Linked DNA regions of Homo sapiens: region 1 is linked to region 2. The links come from fine-mapping of genetic effects on gene expression. A gene starts in region 2. The other region holds a variant in brackets. All regions are shown on one strand. Distances are between the middles of the regions.

What was found. PIP is the estimated chance that this variant, and not a neighbour inherited with it, causes the effect. A credible set is the group of variants that fine-mapping cannot tell apart.
Region 1: its variant is the best candidate, but not a certain one, in a credible set for the expression of LINGO1 in skin (TwinsUK, PIP 0.73).

What each region holds. Positions count from the first base shown.
Region 1 is chr15:77,573,672-77,581,988 of GRCh38, forward strand. The region is part of intron 3 of LOC105370906 (a long non-coding RNA gene); the gene reads left to right. Among named protein-coding and RNA genes, the nearest start is that of LINGO1, 55 kb to the right of the region's middle. RefSeq lists enhancers at 102-602, 8,255-8,317. The variant C/T (reference allele first, on the strand shown) is at 3,904.
Region 2 is chr15:77,629,830-77,638,101 of GRCh38, forward strand. It overlaps LINGO1 (leucine rich repeat and Ig domain containing 1), which reads right to left and starts at 3,083. Exons shown (of 2, transcript NM_032808.7): 1 at 2,481-3,083. The coding sequence starts at 2,486. It overlaps LOC105370906 (a long non-coding RNA gene), which reads left to right. Exons shown (of 4, transcript XR_001751806.2): 4 at 456-632. RefSeq lists enhancers at 1-507, 3,902-4,465, 3,907-4,036.

The sequences.
Region 1 (8,317 bases), 56 kb before region 2:
AGGCCCAGCTGTGAGTGGCTGTCCCTGGGCTGGCAGTCCAGGGCAGGAGCCAGAAGTGGAGGATGGGGGGGTGGGCCTGCCTTTGAAGAGGCCCCCCCAGAGTGGAAGGGTGGGCAGAAGGCTGGGATAGGGCAGAACCTGTCCCTCCCTTCTTGCTGCCTGGCAGGTGACAGCTCCTCCACTCCCTGAACAAGGCAAGGCTGACTGACGAGAAGGCTGCAGAGCCAGGCTGTCAGCAAGTGCCCCCTGCCACCTTTGCATGACTAATTTGCATAATATTTGCACAAATCTGCATAATTTAGGAACCAGCCAGTGCTCATCTCGGGTCGTACAACTGGCTGTGATTTTATGAGCTTTGAAGTGGCCCTTTCTTCTCCTGCCCACAGCCCCTCCTACCTTCCTTTGCTCTGAGTCTGGCCTGTCATCCTGTTGTCTGCCTACCTCTCTGGGGCTGGTGGATGGGCCTCCCAGACTTTCTTGGGTCCCCAGAGAGAGCCCTTCTGCAGCTGCCGAGTGGAGTTGCCTGTGAACTGTGACACTGGTCTCCATGCAACCCTCCAAGGGGCCATCATGAAGGAGATTTGAGGACCCTGAGAAAGCTCTACATGGTTCATCAGGAGTAGGTGAGGCCAGAGTGACCAAAGCCTCTTTTCTGACAGGGCATGAGGAGGCAGGTGTCTGCGCTCCCATGAGGCTTTGCACTTGATGCTGGTGAGGCTGGGATAGTGCCCTGAGGATCAAGGTGCAGGACAGGGCAGAGATTGTGACTGCCTGGTCAAGCAGCTGCCCCCAAGGGAACCAACTCACAGTTACTGTCAGTCCAGGTGGATGTCCCTATAGCAGTGCCACAGCGCTCTGTCCCTGCCCTTTCAACATTTTTATTCTTAGGTTAGTTAAGGTTTTCTTGGGTACAAGTAGCATGAACTCCAAGTGGTTTAAGCAAAAGAAAAAAAGAGAGAGGATTTACTCTCTAATGTAACTGAGAAATCCAGGGGTATATGGGCTTCAGGCACAGCTGGATCTAGAGGCTCAAACACTAGCATGAGGACATTGTCTCTCTCTGTCTTTTCTACCCTGCTTTCCTCAGTGGTGGCTTAAACTGGCTCCCTCCCTGCCATGGCCCCTGGAAATGCTAGTGTTATGTCCTACTGGCTCCAAGTCCAGGAGAATCAGAACATCTTCCCACCAGCTCCAGCTAAAATCCAGAATTTAGTGGTATTGATTTAGCTTGGGCCGTGTGCCCAAAGCTGAACCAAGTGTTGTGATCAGAAGCATGTGGCCCTTTCAGTGGTCAAGCCCCACGTCACATGCCGACCCTCAGGGGCATGGGAGGAGTCAGTCCCACTACAAGGATTGAGGGAAGGGGGAGGTTCCTTGGGGAATACTAGGGACTCCTCCCAGAAGACAAGGAAGTGGAGAACTGAGCTGGCAACCCCAGCTGGCCATGCAGGGCCTTTCTCAGATGAATCTGTGGGTACCAACTCCAAGCACGGGGATCTGGAGATTCGGAAGGGAGAGGTTTGTGAGGACTGATGAGTTTATGGATGGGGACACATGGTGGGTGCCTGGCGATGGGAACTTTCTTCCTTCTGTGAACAAAGGCAGGGCTTGGGTGGGATTTGAACCCAGCCCCACAGTTCCTGGGCACTTGGTGGGGCACAGTGCTACGACTCCCAGTGATGCAGAGCCCCGAGCCACCCACCTCTAAAAAATGAAGACAATGAGCAGAAGGGAGGGCGGTGGCCACTGGTATAAGGAAGGGGAGGTGCTGGAGTTGAGCTCTGAAGGAAGGTAGGCAGGGCACCCTGAGTTTCCTTCCAACAAACGCTGAGCGAGCCAGGCCCTTTTTTTAAACAGGGAGACTGAGAGGAAGGGAGTCATTGCAGACACAAGAAACCCCACTTTAGCAGAATCCCTCATCAACTGCCCGGCCCTCCATCCCATCCCATCCTATTGGAGGCCAGAACTGGTGAGTCTGCGTTCCTGCCTCCCACCTCCAACAAGCTCAGCACTTTCCCTGCTCACTCAGGTCCCTGGCTGCCCAGTCCAGGATTGAGGCTGCAGCTCAGGCCCCGAGTTCCCCGCCCTGCCCACACCCTGTGCTGCCCGGGTTCATGTGGGGCCCGCAGAGCTGGACTCCTCCTCATTGAGATTCTGCCCCAGGGAAGGGCCAACACTTACCAGGCACTCACGATAAGGCAGGTGCTGGGCTAAGTGCTTTCACTCATTAATTAACAACTCGATGAGAAAGATATGATTATCTTCCTCCCTGCTTTACAAATGAGCAGGCTGAGACCCAGAGAGCTTGAGCAACCTGCTTAAGGTGGCACAACTAGCAAATGGCAGGGGGGTGTGAACCCAAGACTGCAGACCCTGGGTTCTTTACGTTGCAGCCTGTCCCCTCCTCTCCCTGTGCCTCAGTCCCACCGTCTGTTCAATGGGCAGAATATCACCTGTGTGCCATGCTGCCAGAGGTATGGGAGAACTGAATAAGATTTTAGAAGACAGGGCTTCAGCAAAGGTCCTTTAAGCCAGAGCCCTTGTCCTCACTGCCAGGGAGGAGCAGGGGGAGGCTGGAGCGCACAGCCCGCAAAGACTTGGGCAGACAGAATGTGTGAAGGAACATGGTCAGCTGTGCCTCATGCTGGAGGAGGAGGAGGAGGGGGAAGAGGGGGGACAAAGGGGAGGAGAAGGAGGAGGAGGGGGAGGAGGACAGGCCTGTAGGGGTTGAGACTGAGACCTTTGCTGGAGGCCTTTGGTGGAGGTGAGCGGAAGGCAGCTGTCCAGGCTGCACGGAGCAGGCTCATGGCAACCACGTGTGGAGGATTTCAGCTGGAAGGGGAGAAAGGAAGGAGGGAGGATGGAATAGAGTGAGGAGAGGGCTTTCTGATGCCAGAGGAAATAAGGCATGCTTGGGTCAGAGCAGGAGCCACCCAGAGAGGGAAAGGGGACACCTCCTCATCTCCCAGTCACACAGCCCTTGCTGGTGGCTCTATGACCATTAACCATTGCCTGCTCGCCATGGCCCCTGCAGTATTCATGTTGTACCCATTTTACAGAGGAGAAAATAGAGGCTCAGAGAAGCAAAGCTCCACTGGTTCTCCCAGCCTGGGGGTGCTTGGTCTGGAGTTCACAGGTTCTGCTCTCTGCCTGCCCACCTGCTCTCTGTGATTAGAGAAGTACAGGTAGAGGTCTTACTTTTTGTACATTGTCACACTATTCTCCCAGAGCTTGGCCATTGAGCCCTCCTTTGTGGGCTCTTAGGGCAGCAGGAAAGCCCACTTGGGTCATCACAGCCTCATATGTGACTGGTGTTCCCATAGCCCCTGCCTTCCCACAGGGGAAGAGTCAAGCTCAGGCTCAGAAACATGCTAGCAGTTATTGCTGTCTCCAAGATGACAAAATGCTTCTGAGGGTGGTGCTCTCCCCAGCTCTCAGGATGTGCACGCAGAGGCTGGTGCTGTCTGGGCCTGGGCTAGTGTGGTTGGGATCGCTGCCCTGCATGTAAGGTGTCCTGGCCCGCTCCGATGTCCTTCCCAACTCTTAAGGAATTCCATGCCTAATCATGGAATTTCCAGCAGGCCAGTTGATCAGAATGGGTGCATGTGTGTGTGTGTAGGTATCCTCTCAGAGCCCCTCCAACCTCACTGTGTGGTGGGCTGCCTCCTCTCTCTATGTGCCTCTCCCTGCCCCAAGTTCTCCCTGGACATGGTATGGGCAGATCCTCATAGAGACAGCCAATATTCCCTTGTGGGTGACCACAGCAGCTGCCCAGAACAAGAGAGGGAGAGAGAAACCAGGGCCTGGGCATGGAGCAGTGAGCCGGCCTCCCCCTCTAGGCCATGCAGCTGGAGCCACGTGATGCTCATTTGTGGAAGCCGGCTCCTGCAGCCACTGGGTGTC[C/T]GTAGGAAGCTGCTAATCCCATCTCATGCCTGTTCTCTCCTGGGGGCCAGCTTCCGGAAGATCAGCCTGCCCACTCTCAGGAGACATTTGGGGTGCTTCCTGGCTTTGCCAACTGATTCCAGGCCCCTGGTGGCTGTGTGAATTTCCTTCCAAGTCCTCGTTTCCACAGATGCCAGCTTGCAGGCCGACTGGTGGTTACCCAGCAACACGGCAAATATTTGGGCCAGCCAGGCTGGTCCATGCCCCCATCCTCGATTTAGTGAGACCCTAGAAGCATGCAACCTTGCCAGCTTTGCCTACTTTGAAAATATCTGGGCACTTAGTAAAAATAACTCCACTCAGCAAAAACCTTTCCACTGACCCCTTACTCCAGGGCTTTCTATCTGAGGACCTGGATGGGTAAGTGGGGGACAGGCAGAGATAGAGGGAGGAGGGTGAGAAGGCTGCAGGGGCCAGTGGAACGAGGAAGCAAGAGCTGAGGGGTGAGAAGGCCCAGGTTTAGACCTGGCTCCCAAACCTCTGACGGGTGGGAATGGCAGACTGCACACACCGCTCAGGCAGGTGTGCCCCAACTCACCCTTGTTTCCCTGGCCCTCAGATCTGTTCTGCTCCCAGGGCTCTGCCCCACATCTCAGTCCTGGGCCTGCAGCACCCCCACTTTATCCATCCCGCTAGAACCTGGCTCCTCCCTCCCAACTCAGGAAACATCTGTGTCCCAGTGGTCTTCACACCACACCCCTTAACTCTTGCCCCACTCCAGCACTCCATCTCTCTCCTGGGGGCCTTAGTGGTCCTCTTGGCTCCTCCAATTCAACCTGCACACTGGACCCAGAGCCTGCTCTAAAATGCAAACCTGCTGCCCTCTGAGATCCCGTTTAGAATCCTCTAGGCTTTCCTGTGTCGCCTGCAAGCCCCCCAGCTGGGTACTTGTGCCCTGCCCATTTCCCCAGTGCCTGCTCCCCCTCCCCTCCAAAATCCCCATCCAGCCATGCTGCCCAGACCTCTGGGCCCTTGCCAGGGCTGTTCCCTGGTACCACCCCCCACTCCCCACACACCTCCCAACATGAACCTGGCTACTCCCAGCACCTTCTTGGGGATGCTCAGATTGGGCCAGCTCTTCCGGCATTCCTGGCCTGACCCCCGTCAGTCCCTCCAACACTGAGCAGTGATTTTACCTTCACTGATCTGTCTCTCACCGTCCAGGCCCCAGCCCTAGTCCTGGTCCATCCACCACCACTAAGGAGCTCCTCCTGGCAGGGACCAGGTCTGCCAGCCCGCACACTGCCTTTGTGAGAATTAGAGACACCCTTCTCCGGGTGGCCACAGCCTCACATTGTGGTGCAAGGCTTGGCAAGTGGAGCATGGGCTAGACTTCAGCCCCTTCCCCCTCGGCTGGGCACGGTGATCCTGGAATGCACTTATCTTGACTGTCTCTGGGGCTGGCTGGCATAGAGCGGGCACTCGAGGGAGTGGGCTGAGTTAAGGAGGAGTGAGCCCTGTCCCTCACAGGGGCCTCTCGTCTTGAGCCTTCTGCCCCAGCTGGTCACAGCTCCCATAGCGGGTTTCAGTTTTCTTCTTGATCTTGGGTGCTTTCAGCTGTGTCTGTGGCAACAGGGCACTCACATGGATGGGGCTTCCAGCCTGGCACCTGGCTAGGTCCAGCTGGCGCTCTGTCTGGCCTCGAGCATGCTCATTTCCCCAGGGAGTGTACTGATTTCACTCCTGCTCTTGGTGACACTGTACAAACAAAAACCACTGTGGGAGGCTGGGCACGGTGGCTCACGCCTGTAATCCCAGCACTTTGGGAGGCCGAGACGGGAGGATCTCTTGAGTTCAGGCATTCAAGACCAGCCTGGGCAGCACAGTGAGACCGGGTCTCTAAAAAGAAAATTATATTGAATTTAAAAACTACGGTTGGAACTGACAAGCTGGGGTGTCCCAGATAGGGAGGGCCTGGAAACAAGAGCCAGGAGAGGTGGCTGGAACCTGGGACAGGGAGGGGCAGATGCCGAGGCAGGGCTGCCATGCAGTCCTGGGGCCTGGGGCCTGCTCAGCCTCACCCCCACCCCAATCCTTCCCTGCATCAGGCTGTGGCTGCCTCTGGGGATTTTCCTGAGAAGAGGCAAAAACTGGCACGTCCATCCTGTCTCAGGTGGGGAGCAGGTACCAGGCTCACTGGGGCTGGGAAAGGCACAACAAGCCCCCACGCAGTCCAGCGTCTGGCGGGGAGAAGGCTAACCCTGCGAGGCTCTGTCACACTTGGAGAAAAGCGCAAGTCCTCACAGCAGCCTACATGGTCATATTGGTTCGGCCCCCTCTCCTCTCTAACCTCAGGGTTCATGCTCCCCCCACCCCCAGCTCACACTGCTTCCCCCATGCTGGCCTCGTCAATGCTCCTTCTGCATGCCAGGCACACGCCCGCCTCAGGGCCTTTGCACTTGCTGTTCCTGTGGCCTCAGATCCTCTTAGCTCAGGCCCCCCGGGACTCACGGCTTCACCCTCTTTGCATCCATACTCAAGGACCATCTTCTCAGTGGGGCCTTCCTTGACCACTTCTTTAAATTACAGCTCCTCCCTAGCACCCCCAAGTCCCTGCTTAATTGTTTTCCATAGTGCCTATCACCATCTGAAATACAATTCATGGGTGGGGATGATGGCTCATGCCTGTAATCCCAGCACTTTGGGAAGCCGAGGTGGGAAGATCTCTTGAGGCCAGGAGGTCCAGGCTGCAGTGACCTATGATTGCACCACTGCACTCCAGCCTGGGCAACAGAGTGAGACCCTGCCACTTATTTCATTTGGTGTTTGTTTCCCCTCTAGAATGTAAGCCCCATGAGGTCAGAGACTTTTCATTGCTCTATCCCCAGTGCATAGGATAGTAGGTAGAATGAATGAGAGCTTATAGAATAAATAACGGAATGACTAAATTACAGTAGTAATAATAACAATAGCAGCTGTCATGTTTGGGCACCCACCTGTGCCAGGAACTTTGCGTCTACTATTTCTTTGAATCCTCTCATGCTTCCTATGGTGAGAACACTCAGGCTCAAGAGGTGAAATGACTTTCCCAAGGTCACCCGGCCAGTGGGGGACTGAGCCAGGCTAGTTGTACCACACATCCTGGAACGTACCCACGACATGGCTGCTAACAGCAGAAAGGGGCTGCCTCCAAGGCCTGCCCTCAGCTCTCGCCATCTGGAGACTGTTGGCTTTGGCCCTGAGACCCCAGTGCACCCCCAGACCCTGACATTCCTGACCCAGGAGTGGGTCAGCGATGGACCAGAGGCTTGGACTGGGAGAGATATATGAGTATCCACCCTTTGCTCCTAAAGCCGTGGACCCGCACTGTTCTCTGTCCTCTGCCAGGCCCTCTGCCAGGGCCATCCGACATCTTCTCATGGCTGGCCCATGTCAATGTTTCTACTTGCAGCTTCCTAAGAGTATGACTTAAAAGGCATGGCTTTTAACCTCCCTGCTGCCTGGCCCGTCCCCTACTGACCATTTCAGCAGCACACGAATTATTTTCCACCTCAACCTCTTTCTAAATCTACTTGTCACTAGCTCTTCTCCTATTAGCCCCCCAGCCACTCAATCCCCTGCCATTACCTCCTCCAGCAGGGTCCCCAGGGAACGTTGTGTATGAAATTATTTTGTGAAACCCAATAAAGATTTTAATCAGGTCAACATCATTACAGGAGAAGGAAATGATGGATCTTCTCTGATGCAGAACAAATGTGGAGAAGAACAAAAGCCCACCAACCCGGCAATCCATGCCCTTGTGAGCACTCGCATCCACGCACGCACTGCCCCCACTGTCGCGCATGGGTGCCCTGCACTTGCACACACCCGTGCATGCCCACGGGGTTTTGCACATCATTGAACAAGTCCCTGCCTCCCTCTAGGTTCTAGTTTTGTCATCTGTACACTGGAGGCTTGATTGCTGAACAAGTCTCTCCTGCCAGCTGGCGAGACTCCGTAGCCTGGTGCCTGCTGGCAGCTGTGCCCTTAGTCACTCTTTGCCGCCCACTGCTGAGAGATGTTACCTCAGAGCATAGGGAATTCCTGTGTAACGCCCCAGCCCCTGCCCCGGCCCACACCTAACACTTGTGAGGTATGGGGTAATGGTACCAATGGAGGCCCACACACCATGTATCTAGATATTTAAAGGTTATCAATCAAGCCAACAAATTGTTAAATAAAACACGTTCTGGGCTCCTCCCTTGCCAAGCAGCAGCCTGGAAGGCCAGGCTCAGCTATGGAATTGTCGGGAAGAACTGACCCTCAGACCCCAGCCCCAGGCCCTGGCCCAGCCCCTCCCCTATTACCCTACCCTGAGCTCTGTGCCACCCTTAAAAGGACCTTGTTCACATATGTGGGGACAGACACCCCGGCTGACAAGGCCAAGCTCTGCCCA
Region 2 (8,272 bases):
GCTGGTACAATATTCAGTGCAAACAAGTGTGGTTCTATGCTGTGGGTGACTGGAGAAGGAGGGGCAATGACTTGAAGCAGGCAGAGAGGCTTCTTGGAGGAGGGGGTCAGGAGAAGGAGAGGAAAGGACCTTTTGTGAGGGGATGCGGGGCCAAGCCAGGTGAGGATGGGGGGATACGTGGAGGAACTGGTGGAAACAGAACAGAAAGCCTCCAGAGACTAACCATGGAGGTGGGTGGGGCTGGAAGGCCACTTCCACAGAGTGCCACACACAGGACAGCTAGCCCAAGAGACTCCAGCCAGCAAGCTAAGGCCCTGACTCTGAAACCACCACACCTACTACCCACCGCCCCCCACCCTTCCCTGGCTCCACTTCCCCTACCCTCCACTGGACACGCTGCCTCATGCCTCCGTGGGACCCTGCACGAATGACTGCACTGCCTTATCTCCCAACAGGAACACGCCCCAACCCCAATTGTGCTTCTCCAGATATCTGCGGCTGAAGGCGCCTGAAGAGCAGCACCACACATGAGCCCTCACCGGCACCAGGGATCCCGTCTAGCCTCATGCAGAACAACCACCCACCTCCACAAGAGGTTGTTTTTTGGGGGGTTGGGGTGGGGGAGGTGTCCCTCTGGGAGTCTGGGTTTTAGAAAACAATACCCAATATAGGAGAAATGGATGCCCAGAGGACAGAGGATGAAGATGAGCCCAGATGAAAGAGGACTATCGCAAGGGGTAAGTCTCTCCACCTCCCTCCCAGTCACACAGGGCCCTTGGCTTTGAGCACATGCCCATCCCCCTAAAAGCTGGTTCCCACTCTTTAACTCCAGAACCTGGGGAACACTGCAGCTTTAACTAAGCCCTACCCAGGGGCTCACACTTAAATTGTCAGGGGGTGAGGAGGGGGGCAGAGACAAGAACACCACAGGGTGCCTGTCCCTGCCTTCGCTAAGCCCCTTCCAGGAGGGGCAGCTGGGTGCTGCTGGGATCCCCGATGTGAGTCTGTGCCCTCTTTCAGCACGGTTCCAAGGAGTTATTGGTCTCTCCCCGGTGCCACCCTATACCCTCCCTCCCACCTCGGGCCACGGGTAGAAAGCAGGAAGGACAGGCATGCCATCCCAGTAGACCTGCTGCTAGTGCCTTCCCAGAGGCGTGAGGATTTTGAGCTCCTCCCTGGCTTATACAAGGACAAAGGGTCTGGGAGCAGCTGGCCCTCTTCTCCTCACTGACACTCTGCGCTGGATCTGGGGAAGCCCCAGGCTCTCTGCCGCCTGGGTGTCCCGGCTCATTGCTCCCTGGGCATGGGAGGCACCAGTGCTGAAGCCACTGGCATAATGACCAACAGGGTTGAGCCCAGAGCCGCGGGCCAGGCTGGGCTATGCGCCCTCTGGCTGCCCAAACCAAGCAGAGGACTGAGGGAGGGCTGGGCGAGCAGGAAGGGGCTGTCCAGATGCCACAGCCCCTACCTCAGGGCCTCCTGCACTCCCACCCGCTCAGGGCAGAGCTCTTCCCATCCTCTCAGGCCCCCTTCTGCCCCACCCCAACCCCAAGGCCTCTGAGAACAAAGAGGAGGTGCAGGCACAGTCAGGCTGGACCAGGCTGGGCTGCGACCCCAGCAGGAACCGGGAGGGGCTGCCCACTGGCCTGGCCCCACCCCTCCTTCTCAAAGTGGGATCCGCCCGGAGGGTCACATCTCCTGGCATGCCTTGAGAGCAGAGAGCCCACAGCCCACCCCGAAAAGGGTGTGAGGGGGAGCAGGAGGCTCCCTCCTTACCTCCCTCTTCTCAGCTGGTTCCCACCTCCCACCCGCTCTGCCTTAGAATGAAAAGTGGGGCAAGAGGAGGTGAGAAGCCCGGGCTGAACGCAGACAAAGGGGAGGCCCCTAAAGCGTTCCTGGGCGCTCCCGGTCCCCAACTCCCTTCCTTCCACTCTCCCTACTCCCCATCTCCTTTTCACTGGGCAGGAGCTGGAAAGGGGCGATGCTTGTGTGTGGTGGGGAGCTGCCATCCAGGCTGGAGCTTGTGGAGAAACCCAGCCCCTGACCTGTGTCCACCAGCTAGGGAGTGTCTGGTGCTGGTGGGGGCTGCCTGGGGGTACCTGGGGTCCACGAAGGGAGGTACCCACCCAGGGCTGAGCAGGGGGCTTACCCTCTAGAGTGACCAATACTCAGAATGGGAGGGGGGACAGGAAGGGGAGACCAGAGCAGGTCTGGGACACCCGTGGGGGCCCCTCCCCAGCTCCAGGCTCCCAGCTTACAAACCCGGAATTTGTTGGGGTTGGAGAGAGGGGAGGTGGAAAAGGAAGAATTTTCATTTCTGAGGCTTGAGGGGAAATCAGGCCTATGACCCCAAAGGAGGTCTGGGTGGCACCGAGGTGCCCTGCAACCCCAGGAGGGCGCAGCCAGGGCCGATGGCGGCCCCCAGGGGCACTCGCCGCGGGGCTGCCCGCTCGGGGCTCGGCCGCGGCCGCCTGGCTCACCTGCATCTCGGGCGCGCCTTCGGTCCGCTCGGCTCGGTCACCAATCGCATGTCTCTCCAGCCGGCCCGACCAGGCCCCAGCCCCTGCCCAGCCCCCTCCTCCGTTTCCTCCTCCTCCGACACCTCCGCCCGGCAGTCCGCGCGCCCTCGCGGGGCTGGCTGTCCGTCTGTCCGCCCCGCGCGGGCGGGAGCCGAGCCGGAGCCGGGGCCGGGGCTCGGGAGTGGGGAGGCGGGAGGCCGCGGCCCCGGCGGGCGGATGGGCGGGCGCGCTCAGGCCGCGGGACAGGGGCTGCGCGAGCCTGCTTCTGCCCCCTGGGCCGGCCCGGAGCCGCCGCCGCCGCCTCTGCCGCTGGGGCCGGGGTCGAGGCCGGGCGCGCTCCGCCGCGGGGCCGGGGCCGGCGGGCAGCGGCCGCGCATGCTGCTCGGCGCCCCGCGTCGGGAGAGGGGCCGGAGCGGCGCGGGTGGGGACTCCGCGCCCTCCGGGGCCGGGACCAGGACCCACCGCCGCCGCCGCCGCCTGCGCTGTCGCCCGCCGCCCGCTCCGGCTCCCGCGCCGGCTCCCGCTCGGGCTCCGCGCTCTGCAGCGGCGCGGGGAGGGAGCACTAGGAGCGAGCCAGGGAGGGAGGAGGGATCGAGGGAGGAGGGAGCGAGTGAGCCGCGGGAGCCGGGCGGGGGAGGAGAAGGCGCGGCCGCAAAACCTGGTGATGGTGGTGGTGGGGTGGGGGGTGGTTCGTCTCCTTTCAGCGGAGGGGGCGGAGAGCGAGGGGCGCCCCAGCCGCTGCCCTGCACGCTTAGGGCAGCGAAACAGGCAGGGGTGCGCAGGCGAGGGGCGCACCAGCCAGGCGCTCCAGCTCTGCACACGGCCGCGCCCCTCCGGGTCCGGGGCTCTGGGCGAGTCCCGGGCCAGCCGGGTGTCGGGGAGTCCGGCGTGCGGTCCTCCCTGGGTGTATGCGCGCACACCGTTGTGTGTGATTTTTGTGTTGCCACATGCGTGTGCATGTGAGCGCGCGAGTGTGTTTACACGTGTTAACTGGGCTGTGGACGAACACACGCACGAGGACGGACAGGGCTCCCTACACGAACAGGGTTGTTTGGAGGGCGGCATGGGGAGGCCGACCGGGAGCCCCCGTCCTGGCCCTGTCCCCTCCTCTCGAAAGTCCGCGAGGCTAGAGGGCCCACATTCTAGCGCGGGAGGGCGAGGCAGGCAGAATGGGAAGCTCCAGGGGACGGCGAGGAAGCCGCGCTGGCCCGGCAGCTCTACCCAGGAGCCGGGGTCCCCGCCCAGCCTGGCTTCCTGTCCAGCAGAGGGCGGCAGGCCTCTCTGGCCCGCTCCGTCCGGAGGCCCTGCACCCAGTGGCCAGCAGAGGGCAGCGCAGAGCCTCCGCCTGGGCTTGACTGTTCCCTCCTCCCGGAATGGTCCCGGGGATCCTCGGCTGGGGCCACAACTTCAGACGGGCCCAAGGAATGGGACCTCTCCTCGGAGATCCAGATCCTCCTTGATCCTCAGATACAGAAACTAGGCCAGCAGGGATGTCTTGGCAAAGCCTGCAGAGTAGGTTACCACCCTCAGGACCTCACCTTTTTCCCTATACTACCCCCTCCATCTCCTTGAAGCCAGACGCCCTTTACCACCAAGCCAGTTTTATTAGAATAACCATCAATGCTGACACCGCCCGGCACGGCCATCCCTCCTCCCCTGCTGGGAACAACCCATTAGCACATGAATACTCCTAATAGCTTGAGTCCACAGGGGCAGCTGAGGCTGGGGGAGGGGATCTAGCCCAAAGCCTCTCGGATTCTGGGGCAGACGCTGGAATCCCAGTTCCAGTGACACCCCCTCTCCCAGGAAGCCTGCGCAACATCATTGCAGAGATGCCTGGTTGCCACGGAGGGACCTCTCCCCACCCCCAACAGCACCTTGTTTCTCGCTGTTCAGCCTCACACACAGCCCAAAGGCTTGCACAGACCTTCTGTTCCAGCTGCACCATTTCTGGGTACTTCTCAGTCTCTCTGGCACACCGTTGCTCTGGACAGTCCTGTCTGGAGCACTTTCTCCTGTCTCCTATGTCTATGCCCATCCTCAACCTAGGCCTAGCTAGAGTCCCTCCTAGCAGGCGTCCATGCTATGCTCTACTGTGAACTGTACGTTCACCCTCCAGCAACTCTGGGGGAGGCACTATTGTTCCCCTGTGACAGAGGGAGGGAAGCCCAGGCCCAGAGAGGTTCCAGGCTCTGCCCATGGTCACACAGCCAGCAAGCCACGGAAAGGGAACTGGACTCGTCTTCTATGGCTGAATGGACCAGCAGGGGGCAGGCTCGGCAGAAGGACTTACAGGTGGGAGGTGAAGCAGGGAGGCCAGCACAGGAGTCCCCCTCCCTGCCAGAGCCCAGCGCAGGCGACTCCCCGGTCCCTCAACTCCGCGCTGCCTGGACCCCTCCCCAGACTCCCCAGCCCCCCCACCCCGGCTGTTTGTGAGCTACCCGTGCGCTCCCGCCCTCCCGCGCCGCCTCCTCCCACCAGCCCGACAGGAATAGACGCTCGCTGGCTCCTGCGTAAAGGCTCCGCCAGGCACCCGGCGGGCGCGCAGACCCGCTGGGGGGCGGGGGCGGGGGCGAGGGCTATTCCTGGTGCGGTGACTGACGCAGGCAAGGCGCGGCCACCACATCTCTCCGCCCCCGACTCACCTGCTCCCTGCCTCAGTGATCTCGGCGGAGAAATGGGGGAGAGCCCACTCATTCCACCCCGCTAACCCCCAGGTGCTACCGGAGGAAGCTGGGGTCCTAGGGTGGGGTATTTTGGTGCCCACAATGATCCCTCCGCGCCTCGGAGGCAGCAGGGATGACCACGGAGCTGTGTCTGGGAGGAAGAGCCCCTTGGCCTCGGTTCTCCACTGTCAATGGCATCCAAGCCATTCCCCTTTCCCTTTGTCTCCAAAAGACATGACCCCTCCCAGCTCTCCCTGTTTTATTCCAATGGAAACGACGGGGAGCTTTGGGGGAACAACTTGGAGGATAGGCCTTTTTGAGGGTCTAGTTTGGGCCTGGTGAGAGTACGGGTCCCTGGCATTGTCACCTAGAGACTCCAGGAAAAGGGGGTCTGTCACTGGGTCCCCACCCAGTTACCTCTGCATGAGCTGTGGAACAGGCATCTCTCCTCTCCTGTCGGGTGGGGTGGTTCCCAGCAGAGTCCTCTCAGGGGTCCCAGGGCCATGGAGAATGTGACACACCGGGATGGCCTAGTCCAAGTGTGCTCTGGCACAACCAGGGGATCATGTCCAGGAGCTACAGCTGAAGAATGTTCCCCGCACCCCAGGCCTTTGTGCCTGCTGGACCACCCTGGTGGCGTGCCTTTTCCCTGATTTCTACCTGTGCTTCAAAACCCAACCAAGACCCATCTCTTCTATTCCTGTCTCCTCTCCCCAGACTGAAATGACATTAGAGGCAAGGCCCAAATCTTTTCCCTCTATCCTCAGACTAGGTGCTCCCAAGAGCAGATCTGAGACTGCGTGTCTCATAGGTGGGCACACAGCAGACCCTGGCTGCAGGCTGAGAACTCAGCAAGTCCCAATAAAGCAGGAGCCAGTGGCTGGAAGGAGCCAGCCTGACTGCTCACTGCAAAGTGGAGAAGCTGGAATGGGTTTGCCCGGGAACACAGGAGGAGGGGAGAAGGCCCTCCACCATGTATTCAGCCCTTACTATAAGCCAGACTCAGCCACACTTCACATCTTTGTCTCTCTGCAAGATTGGCATTGCTGTTCCTACTGTACAGATGAGAAGACCGAGGCTCTGGGAGGGCTGGTGACTTGCTCAAGTTCACTCTGTGCACGAGTTAGAGCTGGGCTTTGAAGCTCTGTGTGTATCTAATGTTAGTCCTGCTCTCCTTTCACTCTGAGAGGCTGAGGAGGCAGGAGGTGGAGCTGGGGCAAGGACCAAGGGTCCCCCAGGCACAGAAAGGAGAGGGTGGCACACACAGGCCTGCCTACATGCCTGCTCTATGCTGGTCCTATCCACTGGCATCCCAGCAGCTCGCAGGGTTTTACGATGATGATTATTTCTGAAGGCACTTGAAATTAATGACGGCTCTAAAATGGCTGGGACAGCAGAGTCATTGCTGAGACCTCTAATTAGCAAGAAAAACGGAGACCAGGAGCCTTGGAGGTGAGTGGGGGTTGGGCAGCTGGCATTGGGCATGGAGCAGGGCTGGGGGAGTGAGGTGGAGCCAGCATCCAGCTGGGGGGCCCTGTGGAGCTGGGTGCTCAGGTGGACCCCGTGTTCTACTTTATGCCACAAGTTAACTTGTTAACTTGCTGTGTGACCTTGAGGGGGTCACAGCCACTCCCTGGGCCAAAGTTTCCCCAGCTATGCAATGAGAGGTTGCCCTGGGGGGGTCTCTAAGCTCAGGGCTCCTTGGACGACCCTGATCCCCTAAAAGGCTGAAGTCCAGAAGGTGGGGGCCATGTAGCCTCCAGAAGCCACCACAGAGACCCACAGCCCTCCATGATGGGGTTGCTGAGGCCGCTGTGTAATGAAGTACTAGGCTAGAGTGAAGTGGATTGAGAAGTGGCAGAAAATCCATAGGTCAGGCCCTGCGCTGGTGCACTGTGGAGGCCAGACAGGGATGGAGGCACCTGAGGGGGCTAGCGGGACAGTCCCTTCTTGGAGGTGGTCCTGGAGATGTGGCTCGGTATAGAGCCTTCCTGCCCCCTCCTGACCCCCTCCTCAAGAGTCAGAGCAGACTTGGGGACACCAGCTTCCCATGTAAGCATGTCACAAAGGGTCAGGCCTGAGTATCTTAAAGGAAAGTCCCTCATCCAGTGCTGCCCAAGTCTGGATCCTCCACATCCTGCATGGGGCAGCCAACATGGGGAAGGCACAGGGGCTCACCTGGAGGGGTTCTCTCCCCACAGTGGCTGGCCCAAGTTGGTGTGGAGATATGCAGGTTCCCAGGGAACATCCATGGTGGGTGCAGGCTGAGGCCAAGACTCAAGGGCAAGGGTGTGTGGGAGGCCCACCCCCGTTAACTGGGGCATCCTCTTCCCTGGCATTTACTTCATGCTTGTCTTGTCATCGATAGCTTTCTCAGCCCCTCAAATCCTCTCCCCTTCCAGTTCAGGTCCCTGTGTGTCCCCCTCCTTCCAAAAACCTGCTGAGAACCTCACCTTCCCCTCGGGCGGGGCTGTATGTCCCTGGACACCTTCCTGAGTCTCAGTTTCCTCCTCTGTAAGATAATGTCGGTTTCACGGGGTGGTGTGAGGGTCTCATGGCTTAACGTGTGGCTGGTATCTACCTGATGCTGATGTAGTAGGAGCTTGATAAATGCAGGTATTTTTAGGTGATCATACTGACTGTCATGGTCACTGGCTGCCTCCTGACCCCTTCTCTTTAAAGTCAGGGCTCTAGCCTAAGGTCCCTTTCAGCATTCCCACTCGGAGACACCTGGACCACATTCTCTGTCGCCTGAGAATCAGGAACACCCTGAGGGCTTGGATTCATCTTGTCTCCTCCAGTTTCCACAGCCAGCCCACAGCCCTGATTCCAGAGGGTCTGATGTCTACAAATTACACCTGACTGAAGTCTCTTAATCAGGAAGGCCCAGTAGATTCCCCTAGAGAGGAGGGCCAGGGCATGGGGGCAGGGACACTCTTGAATCCATACTTCTTACTCCCTCTCACCATGGGGCACCCATGCCTCCAAGGAAATGTTTCAGCACCAGTGACAGGTCACTTGTCTAGAAGCAACGTAGTCAGCAGCCTCCCCTACTGGGAATCTCACTGGGAATCCGGGGAAGCCCAA